2 separate regions of the Homo sapiens genome follow, and region 1 is linked to region 2. Evidence: fine-mapped expression QTL. Tissue or cell type: whole blood. Region 2 holds a variant in brackets; the other region holds the start of a gene. All regions are shown on one strand. Distances are from middle to middle.

Evidence for each region. PIP is the estimated chance that this variant, and not a neighbour inherited with it, causes the effect.
Region 1: it holds the start of RALY, and the variant in region 2 is fine-mapped to the expression of RALY in whole blood (INTERVAL, PIP 0.93).

Annotation. Positions count from the first base shown.
Region 1 is chr20:33,990,736-33,998,833 of GRCh38, reverse strand. RALY (RALY heterogeneous nuclear ribonucleoprotein) reads right to left here and starts at 4,923. Exons shown (of 10, transcript NM_016732.3): 1 at 4,703-4,923. It overlaps RALY-AS1 (RALY antisense RNA 1), which reads left to right and starts at 4,467. Exons shown (of 2, transcript NR_109886.1): 1 at 4,467-4,629; 2 at 5,929-6,346. RefSeq lists enhancers at 1-43, 5,480-6,006, 5,943-6,022 and silencers at 4,203-4,532, 4,753-4,802, 4,863-4,992, 5,173-5,282, 5,453-5,702.
Region 2 is chr20:34,833,242-34,841,345 of GRCh38, reverse strand. It overlaps the pseudogene HMGB3P1. Among named protein-coding and RNA genes, the nearest start is that of NCOA6, 12 kb to the right of the region's middle. The variant C/G (reference allele first, on the strand shown) is at 3,337.

The DNA.
Region 1 (8,098 bases), 840 kb after region 2:
TTTCTGCACACACTCTTGCACACGCTCTCCCACAACCTTCATTTGAAACACCATCACCTCTTGCCAACCTCCTAACTGGTCTCTCTGCCCACAGTGTTCTAGCTCTCCAGTCCGCTCCTGAACAGGCAGCCAGAGATATCCTTCCAAAATGCACATTGAATCATGGCCCCCTCACCTCCGGATGAAGTCCAAACTCCTCAACACAGGCAAGAAGGCCCTTTCCTGACTTGGCCTCTGCTCTGCCTACCTTGAAAGTCTCCTGTCTGGCCATATCCACCCACCTCAAGCATTATGCTCCACCCAAGAATCCTGAGAAATTTGTTTAGCTCTCTTGGCCCGTTTCCTTCAACTACAGAATGGGAATAGTAACAGTACGTACTTTCGGGATGGTCTTAACCTATTATCACCATTTCTGAACTTACTGTTCCTTCTACCTAGAACAGTCTTATCTCTGCCTCTTCCCTGACTCCCCAGATCTCTTCTTTTCCTGGCTTATGTCTGTTCTCTTGAGGGCTAGGCTTAACCAACTTCTCCTCCTAAAAAGCCTTCCCTGACCTTCCAATGCTGGGTTAGGCATCATTTTTCTGTGCTCTCCTGGTGTCTGTCCCTGTGACAACACTTCTCACACTGCCTGTTTCCTTGCCTATCTTTCCCACTACGCTATACAAACCCAAATCCCTAAGCGTAGCACCAGGTCTAACAGAGGCTCATTAATTCTTCAGTGAATGAAAAACTTTCCAAAAATGAGGTATCCAAAGAAAGACAATCTCAACAAGTAACCAACTCAAATGTCAGCCAGGTGGCTGGTCTAAATGACTGTAAGGTCCCTCAACTACAAGATTCTATTCAATAAATTCAACACACTGACCTCATGGGTCATATTTGTTTGAACTTTAATATGCAGGCAATGTTGGGGCCATCAGATTTTTAAGGAGAGTGTGACATGACCAGACACATGATCATGTGTTTGTTACCCTATTAACCATCTCTGAGACACTGCCTCTCCCAACCCCCAGTTGTTATCAGGACAATATTCCAACCATCTTCATAAACATGAAGAGCCCACTCCCCTAAATGGACCAACACAGAAAACGGTCAAAGGGCATTTTGAAAGGCTATATGCAGCATCTAACTCCATCTTAACCAACTGCAAGCAGTGAGTATCCATAAACATCCTCCAAGAACCCAAAAGCTAATCCCTCCTGTGTGCCTCTATGGAAAAAGGGGGAAGAAAGAGGGAACATTTCATAAAGGTGATCTACTTAATCATTCTGAGTAGTTTTGATCCAAGCTGCTGTCACTGCACTGTTATTCCTGATAACTGCAGCCCAATATCCCCAAACCCTGGACTGTCAGAAGGGCAGGTGCAAACAAGGTGAGGGTGGGGAGTTATCTCGGTTCTATTTTAAGGGTGTAATAGCCTGGCGTGGTGGCTCATGCCTGTAATCCCAGCACTTTGGAAGGCCAAGACAGGAGGATCACCTGAGGTTCAGGAGTTCGAAGCCAGCCTGGCCAACGTGGTGAAACCCTATCTGTACTAAAAATACAAAAATTACCCAGGCGTGATGGTGCATGCCTGTAGTCCCAGCTACTCGGGAGGCTGAGGCAAGAGATCCCTTGAACCCAGGAGGTTGAGGTTGCAGGGAGCCAAGATCGTGCCACCGCAATCCAGCCTGGGCGACGGAGTGAGACTCCGTCTCCAAAAAAAACAGGGTATAAGGTCTCTTCTGCAGATACTGGGGGGCCAGCAGAGATTCAAAACAGGCTTCAGTGATACAGAACATCAACCTAAGGGGGAGAAAAGTAGGTCTTACTCAGAGAGGCCTGGGTTCCTGCCCTGGAGCTGCATGCCACATCTCTGCTGCAGGTGAGGACTAATAATTTTGCATTTACAATGCACTCTGAGACTAAAGAAGACACTAAGTGTGCCAGCTTTGCAGGCACAAAAGGACAAATATTGCATGATTCCACTTACATGAGGTTCCTAGAGTAGTCAAATTCACAGAAAGTAGAACGATAGTTTTCAGGGGCTGGAGGGAGGAGGGAAGGGGGAGTTAGTTTAATGGGTACAGAATTTCAGTTGGGGAAGATAATGGACAGTGATGATGGTTGCATAACCATGCGAATGTATTTAATGTCACATAAATGTACACTTTGAAACGGTTAAATGGTAAATTTTATGTTATATATATTTTACCACAATTTTTTTTTTAAAAAAAGCATGCCAGCTTTAAGGTTATACTGTCTGCAGTCTGAATACTGCCATGGCCACTTACCAGTTACATGACCCTGAGGCAGGTAATGTAACCTCTCTAAGCCTGTTTCTTCTATAAAACAGGGATAATAATAGTACTTAATTCATAGGTTGCTCTAAGAATTAGTAATATAGTCCATAAAGTCCTCAGTCCATTGACTGGTGGTACACGTTAAGTACTTAATAAATTTAGCTATTATTACTACCACTATAAAGCACTTTCATAGCCATTTTCTTAACAATCCCCACAACAACCCTATGAGTTTACAGATAAGGAAACTGAGGCTCAGAGAGCCACAATGAGTGGCTCAGTTTATGATGTCAAATCAAATCCTCTGCTCCAGAGAGGTGTCTTGTCCTCACTACTTACTCATTCTGTCATCTAAGGCAAGTGCTATGCTGTGTCTCCATTCCCTCACAGTAAAAAAAGAGACATAAACCAAGCTCTGCAAACTACCTCACAGAAATGGATTAGAAATTAAATCAGATAATGGTTATGGAAGAGTATATAAGCCATAAACACATAAAACCGAAGTGGTGACTTACGAGAACTAGTACACCTGTGCTTAAACCTGGCCTCCTCTTAATACTAACCATAAGGCACAGAAAGGGGTGGGGACTATAAAACTTCCTTGGGATTTCCAATTACTCAGGATTCCTGACCTTAAGACCTGAATAAGTGGTTTCGTGCCCTTTTAAGAAGTGGCAAGGTATGGGAGAAATAAAAATATTACTGGATTAGGAGGAAGAAGACTGGAAATTTTAGTTCTCACTCTGACACTAAGGCAGTCTGAATTCAGACAACTTACTTCCCCTTTCCAAGGTTCAGTTAACAGGGAAGCGGGGAAAGGCAGATATGAAAAAGTTGGACCAGATGGTAAGACCCCTTTCAGCTCCCACATAGGACTCGTAAATCCAGAATCCTGGCCAGGCACCACAGACGTACCAGACTCCAAAGAACTAATGTGAACATCAAGAGACTCCTCAAGACCTGGCCCAGAAACTCCCTTGCCTGATTTTTAGACACTCCCTCCAACCGGATCACATTGAAAAACTGGAACATTTGCCAAAGTTAATTTTAGTTCACTTTAACCACTCTGGGCCTTATCTGAAAATAGGAGTAATATTTGTTTGAAGGCAGATGACTTGAGCTACTCCCCCTAACCCCCATCAAACTAGGATCGATAAATCTAAACACAGAGAACCTGCAAGGTCTGGGAGGAGGAACACACCACACACAAACTAAAGGGTGGATCCCACCGTTTACAGTCTCAAAGCTTCCTTGAGCCAAAACCCCAGGGAATTTGAGTTGTGTCTGAGACCTGGAGTCTGCATCCATCAACTTCTAACTGCCGCAACACTAGCAAGGAATTCATCCAAACCTTTCCCTTTAGAACTATGGTAACCCCAGAATGGGATTTCATCCACAGTATAGTGGACAACGGCCCAGAAGTCAGGGAAAACCCAGAGTTATGCCCCTAATTAAATGGTGTGACCCAAGGCTAGGTAAAAATACCCTCTGCACTAAGAGATGATACATGCTCACACCAGGAAATATTAATAAATAATAGGTACTGGCACCACTCCTTTGCACTTCTGTGGCTACTGTGACTTGGAGAAAATTACTTGACCCCTCTGCGCCTTAATTTCTGCTTTTGTAAATGAGGATAAACCAGAAGGCCGTTGTGAACATTAAATGAAATAAGGCTTGGGAAGTTCCTGGGTGAAGTCTCATTAAATGTTCCCTGTCGGTGTTAAACACTTCTTTCACATATTAGTTCCCTCCCTGAATCCACGAACACCCCGCAAAGCGAGTTTCCTTCTTTCCCCCCATGTCACCGAGAGGCAAACTAAGACTCGGCCGCCAAGGAGGCTGAGTGAAACGCGGATACGGCCCCAGTTCGAGGGCCCGTTGTTGTTTCTCTCCGAGCCCAAGGCGTGCAAAGAGCCCAGAAGAGGCGGGAGCCGAGGCAGGACAAGCTCTGCGCGCCTCCGGGAGCCCGTAGACCCAGTCCGGGTTAGGAGAGCCGGAAGCAGCCGCGGCCGGGCCCGCCTGCGGCCTCCCCGGAGCAGCCTCCGTTCCCCTCCCTCCGCCCCTCGCCGGGCGGGGCGGGGCACGAGCACAAAAGACTCCAACTTCCGAGCGGGCGCGGGCCCACCCAGCCAACTACTGGCCCAGACTTGGCCCGCGGAGAGAGCAGACAGGGAACGCCGGGAGCAGGACCGGGCGCGGAGGGCTGGGGCCGGGGACCCGGGGCGGCGGGTCCGAGTGGGAGAAAGGAGCGGCGGAGGGGGCCTAGAGTTACTCGGGCTCCCGGGACTCCCCGAAGGGCAGAAATAAGTTTCTAAAAATAGGCAGCGGCCTGCCGGAAGAAGTGAGTGAACGGAAAGGCACAAAGCACACACCCTCCCCGCACCCCTAAGGAGACGCCCGCAGTCCCCACTCACCCGCGCCGAGAGGTCTGGAGGAAGCCGCGCGGCTGGGAAGGAGGCGGTACTGCCGCACTCGGGGACGTAAGGGAGGGAGGAAAAGGGCGGCTGCGGCGGGAAGAGGCTGGGCACACGCGCGGGAGTCGTCGTCGTCGCCGTCGCCGCCGCTACCGCCCCCTCAGCTTCTCTGGGTTCCGCTGCCCCGAGCTGGCGCCGCTCGCGCGCCCCGCCGCACTGACAGCGGCGCGAGCCCCGCAACCGCGAGCCCTGCCCTCGGCCGGCACCACTGAGGCGCGCGGGGGTGGGGGCACCCGGAGCGGCTCCCCGCAGCTCGGCTCCGCCCGCCGCTCCGGCCCTGGTTCCGGGCTCTCCTCCTTCTCTGTCTCCTGGGAAGGACACGGTGACACGAGCACGAGGAGTCTGCAGCCCCGCCCAGAAACAGCCCGGCTTCCCAGGCGCATGGGCTCTCCCCACCCTCTCAGCCTGGCTTTGGAAAGGTCCAGAGCTTCGGCGGGGACGGGAGGAAGGCGGGGCCAGGGTGGGGCCTGAAAGGGAGGAGGGACTGAGACGCGGCTTGGGGAGGCGGGGCTGGGGCGGGAAGAGGGCAGCTTGCACAGGTTTGGAGCCGAAGTAGGGGCGGAGCTAAGATGGTGATGAGGCCCTGGGAAGAGGGTCGCCGGACCAGTGGGGAAGGCCGTGCAGGAGATGGAGAGCCGGGAACCAGGACAGCGCTTGAAAGGAGATGCTGTGGGCGGGGCTAAATGGAGAATCGCCCAGAGGGCGGAGCCACGGGTGGAGGGAGGCGGGGCTGAAGAGAAGCTTAGAGTGGGAGGAAGATGGAAGCGGGCCTGAAGGAGGCGGGCCCGGAAGCAGGGAGGGGAGGAGGGGCCCCGGGGGTGGCTACTCTGGGCGGGTGCCGGAAGGAGGCGTGCCCCAAGGAAGGACTGAGGGGTGGTGCTTGAGGTGGGCGGGGCCTGGAGATGGCGCTCAAATCTGCAGGCTGTGGGCGGTGCAGGAGGGATCCGGAAGAGACGAGGCAGGAAGAAACTCCTGGTCCTTTCGCTTTTAAGGAACGTGCCACCTAGACAAGGTGAGGGTCGCTCTTCGCTGCCTAATCTGGGACTGGGCGGAGAGGCCGCGCTAAGGGTGATCTCCGAAAAAGATGCAGGAGATGTTTTATAACTTGATCCAGGTGCTAGTCCTCTCTCCTACACATTTCTCCTGTCGGGATTTCTCACTTTCAGTGTTCCAGCCTCCGGTGAACCAGTCTTCCTAGTGAGAGCACGAGAAGCCCGTTGTCCTTCATTCCTCAGCTATGGATTTCCCTGAAAGTTGAGAACTGACCATATTCTCGATGCCTCCTCCGACCTGTGATTTCATGACTCACATCGCTTCCCCAGAACCTGCTTAACAGACGGGATTCCTGAGAATGGAGCAGAGTTTGAATTCAGAGTCCTGGCTTTGCCATACCAGCAGTTATAATTGTCCTTCTGTTGTTTGATGACCTCCCTGCCCTGCTTCAAAAGGAAGAGAAATCAAAGAGTTGACGACCCTGAGCGCAAGGCCTGGGACGTTCTTCCCCAAACTCGCTTTAATATCACCTTCTCAAAAGAACTCTTCCCTGAACACCTTGTCTCAAGATGTTCTCTAGTTTGTCTTCTTGTTCTGTCATTTATTTGTCTGTTCATTGTTTGTGTGTTTTTTGAGGCGGAGTCTAGCTCTGTCGCCTAGGCTGGAGTGCAGTGGCACGATCTCGGCTCTCTGCAACCTCTGCCTCCTGGGTTCAAAGCGATTCTTGTACCTCAGCCTCCCAAGTAGCTGGGATTACAGGCGTGTACCACCATGCCCGGCTAATTTTTGTATTTTCAGTGGATACGGGGTTTCATCATGTTGGCCAAGCTGGGCTCTAACTCCTGACCTCAGGGGATCTGCATTTGAGGATAAACCCTGTCTTGGCTCCTCCCTGACGGGGGTGAGAAGTAGCCCTCCTGGAATTGCCTCAAAGCCCCCGGTTATCACCAGTGTTCTCGGTTGCAAATTACGAAACATAAATAAACTCAGACTAACAGATGCAGCAAAGGAATTTATCAGGAAGGAATGGGGAGCTCCCAGAACTGATGGGAAGGCTGGAGAACCAGGCTCAGAAAATGCACTGAAGTGGTGAGCGCAGAGGCTTGAATGTTGCCAGGACTCTCCTCCCAGTCCTTTATCTCTTCTCTCTGTATGCGAGCTTTTCTCCTCAAGGCTAGGCACCTGGCTGCAGCAGCGCTCACCACTCACAACTCTCACCCGTTCCACCGGAGAGAGACTGAGGATTTCTGCTTCTGGTCTGAAGGACAAAATTTTAGGGAAAAACTTTGATTGGTCCAACATAGGTAAGTCCCCGTCCCTAGACCAATCATCTATGGGTGGAAAACCAGGTGCTGTGACTGGCCCAACTTAAGCCAGGTGCCATTCTCTAACCAATACTGTGAATAAGGAAGTGGGACGTACAGGGAGATGGCAGCCCCATCGGAACCATATGGTCAGAGAAAGATGCATTTCCCAAAAGATGGAGTTCATGCTCTGGGGCAGATTGAATAATAGATTTTCACTACACCTGCCCCAGAGTTACCCCCAACCAATACATTACTTACTGCCCAACTCTCATCATTCCTTCTCTGCTCAAAACCCTTCAATGGGCTGGGCGCGGTAACTCACGCCTGTAATCCCAGTACTTTGGGAGACCGAGGTGGGGGGGATTACTTGAGGTCAGGAGTTCAAGACCGGCCTGGGCAACATGGTGAAACCCCATCTCTACTAAAAATATAAAAATTAACCGGGCGTGGTGGCAGGCACCTGTAATCCCAGCTACTCAGGAGGCTGAGGTGGGGTAATCGCTTGAACCTGGGAGGTGGAGGTTGCAGTGAGCCGAGATCATGCCACTGCACTCCAGCCTGAGACACAGAGAGAGACTCCGCCTCAAAAACAGAAAAACAAAAAACAACCTTCAATAGCCTCCCATTGCCATGTCATCAGCATGGATCAAAAACTCAAATGTCATGCCGGGCACAGTGGCTCATTCCTTTAATCCCAGAATTCTGGGAGGCTGAGGCAGGAGGATTGCTTGAACCCAGGAGTTTGAGACCAGCTTGGGCAACATAGTGAGACCCTGTCTCTACAAAAAAAAAAATTTTAATTAGCTGGCATGGTAGCATGTGCCTGTACTTCCAGCTACTTGGGAGGCTGAGGCCAGAGGATCACTTGAGCCCAGGAGGCCAAGGCTACAGTGAGACATGCTCACACCACTGCATCCAGCCTAGGCAACAGAGTGAGACCCTTCTCAAAACAAATAACAACAACAGCAAACCCTCAGGTGTCTACAGGGGCTAGAAAGAAGGTTAGGCATGAGACAATAGGGAGTGGAGAGCACTG
Region 2 (8,104 bases):
ATTAGTGAAATAGAGAATAGAAAAACAATAGAGAAAATCAATAAAACCAAATCCTGGCTCTTTGAAAAAATCAACAAAATTGACAAACCTGTCCCAGATTGATCAAGAAAAAAAGAAGACTCGAAATTACTAGAATCAGAAATTAAAGATGGGACAGTACTTACAATCTTACAGAAATAAAAAAGGATCACAAAGAAATACTATGAACAACTGTATGTTAATAAATCAGATAACTTAGATGAAACATAAAATTTCCTAGAAAGACACATACCAAAACTGACTCAAGAAGAAATAGACAATCTGAGGAGATACATAACAAATAAAGAGATTAGTAATATATACTAAAAAGCAAACTACTTACAAAGAAAAGCCCAGGTCTCAGACGGCCTCACTAGTGATTTCTACAAAACATTGAAAAAAATTAATACCAATTCTATAAAAAAAGCTTTCAATAAATAGAAGAGGAAGAAACGCTTTCTAGTTTATTCTGTGAGGCTAGTTTTACCTTGAAATTAAAATCCAACAAAATAAGACCTAATAAGAAAACTACAGACCAATATTCTTTTATGAACATGGATGTAACATACTCAACAAAATACTAGCCAACAACATATAAAAAGAAGTATACACTGCCTCAGTGGGATACATTCCAGGAATTCAAGCTTGGTTTACTTTCAAAAATCAAGTATTGCATTATATTTTTTTGGTAGAATAAAAAACAACACATGATCATCTCAATAGATGCAGAAAAGGCATCTGACAAAATCCTACCACCCCTTCATGATAACAAACAAACAAAAAACACTCAGCAAACCAGGAATAGAAGGGAACTTCTTCAACATGATAAAAGGCAAATATAAAAAACCCTCAGTTAACATCATACTTAATAGTTAAAGATTGGATGCTTTCCCACTAAGATTAGAGCATACCCATTCTTGCTACTTCTATTCAATATTGTATTGGATGTTCTAGTCAGGGCAATTAGGCAAGATACAGAAGTAAAAGGCCTCCAGATTGGAAAGTAAAAAGTAAAACTATTTTTATTTGCAGATGGCATGATCTTGTATACAAAAAATCCTAAGAAATCAATGAAAACAATGACAGCTAACAAAGGAGTTCAGCAAGATTGCTAATACAAGATCAGTATAAAGTTTCTGTACACTTGCAATAAACAACCTGTAAATGAAATTAAGAAAACAATTCTGGCCAGGCACAGTGGCTCCCACCTGGAATTGCAACACTTTGGGAGACTGAGGCTGGAGGATTGCTGGAGCCTAGGAGTTGGAGACCAGCCTGGGCAACATGGTGAAACTTTGTCTCTACAAAAATTAACTGACAGTGGTGGTGTGTGCCTATAGTCCCAGCTCCTCGGGAGGCTGAGGTGGGAGAATAGCTTGAGGCCAGAAGGTGGATTGATGGCGCCGCTGCACTCCAGCCTAGGTGATAGAGTGAGACCCTTAAAAAAAAAAAAAGAAAAGAAAAAGAAAAAAGAAAGAAAACAATTCCATTTACTGAAGCATCAGAAAGAATAAAATACTTAGGAATAAATTTTATAAAAGAAGTATAAAAATTAAAACTATAAAACATTGTCGAAAGAAATGAAAGAAGACCTAAATAAATGTAAAGACATTCTGTGTTTATGAATCGAAAGATTTAATTTTGTTAAGATGACAATACTTCCCAATTGATCTACAGATTCAATGCAATCTGTATGGAAATTCCAGCAGCACTTTATTGCAGAAATGAATATGGATGATCCTAAAATTCATATGGAATTAATTGCAAGGGACTCAGAATAGCCAAAACAATCTTGAAAAAGAACAATGTTGGAGGACACACATTTCCCGATTTTAAAACTTACTACAAAGTAATCAAAACAGTGTGGTAGGTATAAGGATAAACATATCAATGGAACATAATTGATAGTCCAGAAATAAATCAATATATCTATGGCCAATTGATCTCAACTAGGGTGCCAAGATCATTCAATGAAGAAGGAATATTCTCTTTAACATATTCACATACACAAAATGAAGTTTGAACCTTGCCTCACACCACATACAAAAAGTAACTCAAAATGGATCAAAGACACAAATATAAGAGCTAAAACTATAAAACTCTTAGAAGGAAACATAGGGGTAAATCCTCATACCTTGGATTTGGCAAATGGTTTCTTAGATGTGGCACCGAAAGCACAGCAACAAAAGCAAACATAGATAATTGGATGTCATTGAAATTAAAAAGTTTTGTACATAAAAGGACAATCTTGAGTGAAAAGACAGTCCAAAAAATGTGAAAAGTATTTGCAATCTTATATCTGATCTGAGTACTTTATATAGTACCCAGAATATATTAAAAACACTTCAACAACATAAAGACAAACAACTCAATTAAAATATGGGCAAAGGACTTCAATAGACATTTCTTGGCAGGGTTCAGTGGCTCATGCCTGTAATCCCAATACTTTAGGAGGCCAAGGTGGGCAGATCGCTTGAGTCCAGGAGTTCAAGACAAGCCTGGGCAAAATGGTGAAACCCTGTATATACCAAAAATATAAAAAATTAGCTGGGTGCTGTGGCACGTGCCTGTAGTCCCAGCTACTGGGGAGGCTGAGGCAGGAAGATCCCTTGAACCCAGGAGATCGAGGCTGCACTGAGTTGAGATCGTGCCATTGTACTCCAGCCTGGGTGACAGGAGTGAAACCCTGCCTCAAAACAAAACAAAACAAAAAGGACACTTTTTTTTTTTTTCTGAGACAGAGTCTCACTCTGTCACCCAGGATGGAGTGCAGTGGCACCATCTCGGCTCACTGCAACCTCCACCTCCCAGGCTCAAGAGATTCTCCCACCTCAGCCCCCTGAGTAGCTGGGACTACAGGTGCATGTCACCACACCCAGCTAATTTTTGTATTTTTTGTAGAGATGGGGTTTTGCCATGCAGCCTAGGCTGGTCTGGAACTCTTGGACTCAAGCAATCCTCCCATCTTGGCCTCCCAAAGTGCTGGGATTACAGGTGTAAGTCACTGTGCCTGGGCTTCAACAGACATTTCTTCAAAGATAAGTCTATGATAAGATGCTGAATATCATAATCACTAGGGAAATGTAGATTAAAACAGGTCAAAATCACCATGAGATACCACTTCACAACAATTAGACTGGCCATAAATATTATTTTTATTTGTTTATTTACTTAAATGTTATTTTTTATCTTTTATTTAAATAGAGATGGAGTCTTACTATGTGGCTCAGGTTGGTCTCAAACTCCTGGCCTCAAGCAATCCTCCTGCCTCAGCCTCCCAAAGTGTTGGGATTACAGGTGTGAGCCACTGTGCGCCCA[C/G]AACAATAATTTTTTAAAAAGGAAATAACAAATGTTGCTCAGGATGTGAAAAAGTGGAATCTTCATACGTTGTTGGTGGAAATGTAAAATGGTACAGCAGCTATGGAAAACAGTTTGGCATTTCTTTAATAAGACAAACCAAATTACCATACGACCCAGCAATACCATTCCCAGGCATAAACCCCAAATCACTGAAAACAGGTGTTCAAAGAAAAACTTGTACATGAATGTTCATAGCATCACTATTCACAATACCAAAAGGTAAAAAACAACCCAAATGTCCATCAACAGACAAAAAGATAACAAAATGTGGTATATTCACATAATAATACATATTATGTTATTCAGCTATGAAAAAGAATAAAGTACTGATACTGATACATGCTACAATATGGATGAACCTTGAAAACATTGTGCCAAGTGAGAGAAGCCAAAAGGTCACATATTGTATGATTCCATTTATATGAAGTATCCATAATAGGCAAACTGACAGAGACAAAGTCAATTAGTGATTCCTTAGGGCTGAGGGAATGGGGGGGTTGGGGAGAGGGAGATACCTAAAGATTATAGAGTTTCTTCTGAGGCAATGAAAATGTTCTAAAATTGACTGTGGTGATGGTTGCACATATCTGTGACTACACTAAATACCATAGAATTATACTTTTTTTTTTTTTTTTTTTGAGACAGGGTCTGGCTTTGTAGCCCAGGCTGGAGCACAATAGTGCAGTCTTGGCTCACTGCAAACTCCGCCTCCTGGGCTCAAGTGATCCTCCCACCTCAGTCTCCACAATAGCTGGGACTGCAGGTATAAAGCACCACGTCCGGCTAATTTTTGTATTTTGGGTAGAAATGGGGTTTCACCATGTCACCCAGCCTGGTCTCGAACTCCTGGACATATGTGAGCGAACCGATTCAACCTCCCAAAGTGCTGGGATCATAGGCTTGAGCCACACACCCGGCTGAATAATACACTTTAAATGAGTAAATTGTATAGTATGTCAATTATATCTCAAAAGCTGTTTTTTTGTTTTGTTTTGGAAAATTGTTTTTTGTTTGTTTTTGATTTTTGTTTTGAGACAGAGTTTCACTCTTGTCACCCAGGCTGGAATGGAATGGCGGGATCTCTGCTAACTGTTACCTCCACCTCCCAGGTTCAAGCAATTCTCCTCCCTCAATCTCCCGAGTAGCTGGGATTATAGGCACCCGCCACCACGCCCAGCTAATTTTTGTATTTTTAGTAGAGATGGGGTTTCACCATGTTGGCCAGGCTGGTCTCAAACTCCTGACCTCAGGTGATCCACCCGCCTCAGCCTCCAAAGGTGCTTGAATTACAAGCATGAGCCACCGTGCCCAGCCTGTCAATAAAACTGTTTTAAAAAGACATAGGATTTGGTAATATGAGCTAAGAGCTGAATGCAAACTCTATGACCCAGCAATCCTAGTCCTAGGTTTTTATCCAGCAAAAAATTGTACACATGTTCATCCAAAGACATGCACAAGAATGTTCATAGTAGTAAAATTTAAAATAACTCCGGCCCGGGTGCGGTGGCTCACGCCTGTAATCCCAGCACTTTGGGAGGCCGAGGTGGGCGGATCACTTGAGGTCGGGAGTTTGAGACCAGCCTGACCACCATGGAGAAACCCTGTCTCTACTAAAAATATAAAAAATTAGCCGGGCATGGTGGTGGGCACCTGTGATCCCAGCTACTCAGGAGGCTGAGGTAGGAGAATCGTTTGAACCCAGGAGGTAGAGGTTGCAGTGAGCCGAGATCACGCCATTGCATTCCAGCCTGGGCAACAAGAGCGAAACTCTGTCTCAAAACAAAACAAAAAAAGCTCTGGCCAGGCGTGATGGCTCACGCCTGTAATCCTAGCACTTTGGGAGGCCGAGGCAGGCAGATTGCCTGAGCTCAGGAGTTCGAGACCAGCCTGGGCAACACAGTGAAACCCTGTCTCTACTAAAAAATACAAAAGAAATTAACCGGGCATGGTGGCGTGCACCTGTAGTCCTAGCTACTCGGGAGGCTGAGGCCAGAGAATTGCTTGAACCAGGGATGCGAAGGTTGCAGTGAGCCGAGATCGCACTACTGCACCCCAGCCTGGGTGACAGAGCAAGAGTCCATCTCTAAAAAAAATAAATAAAATAAAATAAAATAGCTCCTAAGTGGAAACCCACATGCTCATTAACAGTAGAATGGATAAATTATGGTGTATTCAAACAATAAAATGCTGGCCAGGTGTGGTGGCTCACATCTGTAATCCCAGCACTCTGGGTGGCAGAGGTGGGAGGATCACTTGAGCCCAGGAGTTTGAGACCAACCTGGGCAACATGGTGAAACCCCGTCTCTACAAAAAATACAAAAATTAGCATGGTGTAGTGGCATGCACCTGTGGTCCTAGCTACTAGGGAGGCTGAGGCAGAAGGATTACTTGAGCCTGGGAGGTCAAGGCTGCAGTGACCTGTGATCCCACCACTGCACTCCAACCTGGGTGACAGAGCAAGACTCTGTCTCAAAAAAATAAAAAATAAATAATGAAATGCTACCCAGCAATGAAAATGAACATGCTACAACTACATGCAACAATGTAGATGAATCTGTAAGTTTAACTCCTGGTGAGACTAATCTATGGAGTTAGAAGTTAAAATACTGTTTAACCTTGGGGGCTGTGGGTAATGACTGGAAGGGGCTTCTGTGGGGCTGAATGTTCTATTTCTTGATTTGGGTGTTTGTTAGACATGTGTGTTGGCTTTGTGGAAATTCAACAGGCTTTACACTTACGATTTCTGTACTTTTATGTCTTTATATTATACTCTAATAAAAAGCTTTAAAATTTCAGAATATTTTTGAAAACAGTTTTTTTTTTCTCCCCCACCCCCACCTTTTTGTGTATGTATGGTCACTTGATATTCTTCCACTTTTTAAAATTGTGTAATTATTAGTCTATTTCTTCTATTTTTTCAATGATTTTTTTCCTGAAGAGCAAGCCATGGCTTGCCCATAGTAAGCCCCCACCCCACCACCGCTTTTTTTTTTTTTTTTTTGAGATAGAGTCTCACTCTGTCATCCAGGCTGGAGTGCAGTGGTGCAGTCTCAGCTCACTGCAACCTCTGCTTCCCAGGCTCAAGTGATCCTCCCATCTCAGCTTCCCATGGAGCTGGGACTACAGGCATGATGCACCACCACGATTGGCTAATTTCTGTATTTTTTTGTAGAGACGGGGTTTTGCCATGTTGCCCTGGCTGGTCCCTAATTCCTGGGCTGACACAATCCACCTACCTCCACCTCCGAAAGTGCTGGGATTACAGGCATGAGCCACTGCGCCTCGCCATAGCATGTCTTTATGCAAAGCACAAGTGACCCCCTCCTCAAGGCATTTTATTTCCATATATCTGAAAATTGTTACAACGAACAGATTCTGAAATAACAAGGCATTTTACTGCCATCTACTGGTAAATTATCATAATAAATTTGCAAATTATAATGTCATGTGAATGGTGTCCACTTAAAAGTGATATCCTTCAAGACTAGTGAACAATACAGTCAGGATGGCTAGAAGTGACCCCAGGAAACTAAGGGGCAAGATGTCTGCTTTTGCCTTCTTTGTGCAGACGTGCAGAGAAGAGCATAAGAAAAATCCAGAGGTCCCTGTCAATTTTGCAGAATTTTCCAAAAAGTGCTCTGAGAGGTGGAAGACAATGTCTGGGAAAGAGAAGTCTAGGCTGGGCACGGCGGCTTACGCCTGTAATCTCAGCACTTTGGGAGGGTGAGTTGGGTGGATCACCTGAGGTAAGGAGTTTGAGACCAGCCTGGCCAACATGGTGAAACCTCGTCTCTACTAAAAATACAAAAAACTAGCCGGGCGTGTTGGTGGGCGCCTGTAATCCCAGCTACTGGGGAGGCTGAGGCAGGAGAATGGCTTGAACCCAGGAGGCAGAGGTTGCGGTGAGCTGAGATCGTGCCACTGCACTCCAGCCTGGGCAATAAGAGCAAAACTCCATCTCAGAAAAAAAAAAAGAGAGAGAGAGTCTAAATTCGATTAAATGGCAAAGGCGGATAAAGTGCACTGTGATAGAGAAATGAAGGATTATGGACCAGCTAAGGGAGGCAAGAACGATCCTAATGCCCCCAAAAGGCCACTGTCTGGATTCTTCCTGTTCTGTTCAGAATTCTGCCCCAAGATCAAATCCACAAACCCTGGCATCTCTATTGGAGACGTGGCAAAAAAGCTGGGTGAGATGTGGAATAACTTAAATGACAGTGAAAAGCAGCCTTATGTCACTAAGGTGGCAAAGCTGAAGAAGTATGAGAAGGATGTTGCTGACTATAAGTCGAAAGGAAAGTTGGACGGCACAAAAGGTCCTGCTAAAGTTGCCTGGGAAAAGATGGAAGAAGAAGATGAAGAAGATGGGGAGGAAGAGAAGGAGGATGAATAAATAAACTGTTTGCCTATAAAAAAAAAAGGTGATATCCTTCTGCAGGGCAAAATTCATCCAACTAAATGTGGTAAGTTTGTCATTTGGCACTGTTGTGACGAACCCTGCAGACAGTAAAATGTTGACACTTTCTAGATGGTTTTGTTCTTTCTTTTTTCCCCTGTTTTATTATTGTTTTTCTTAAAGACATCATTGAAGTATTCACTGTCAGTCTTATCACTGCAGAGCTTGAGCCTGTTTGGACACACATGAAAGTAGAAGTCCAATAAATACAAATCAAATTATCAAAGAACAATTGATTTGCTTTTTCTTCACTCTAGTCCAAATCTAGAA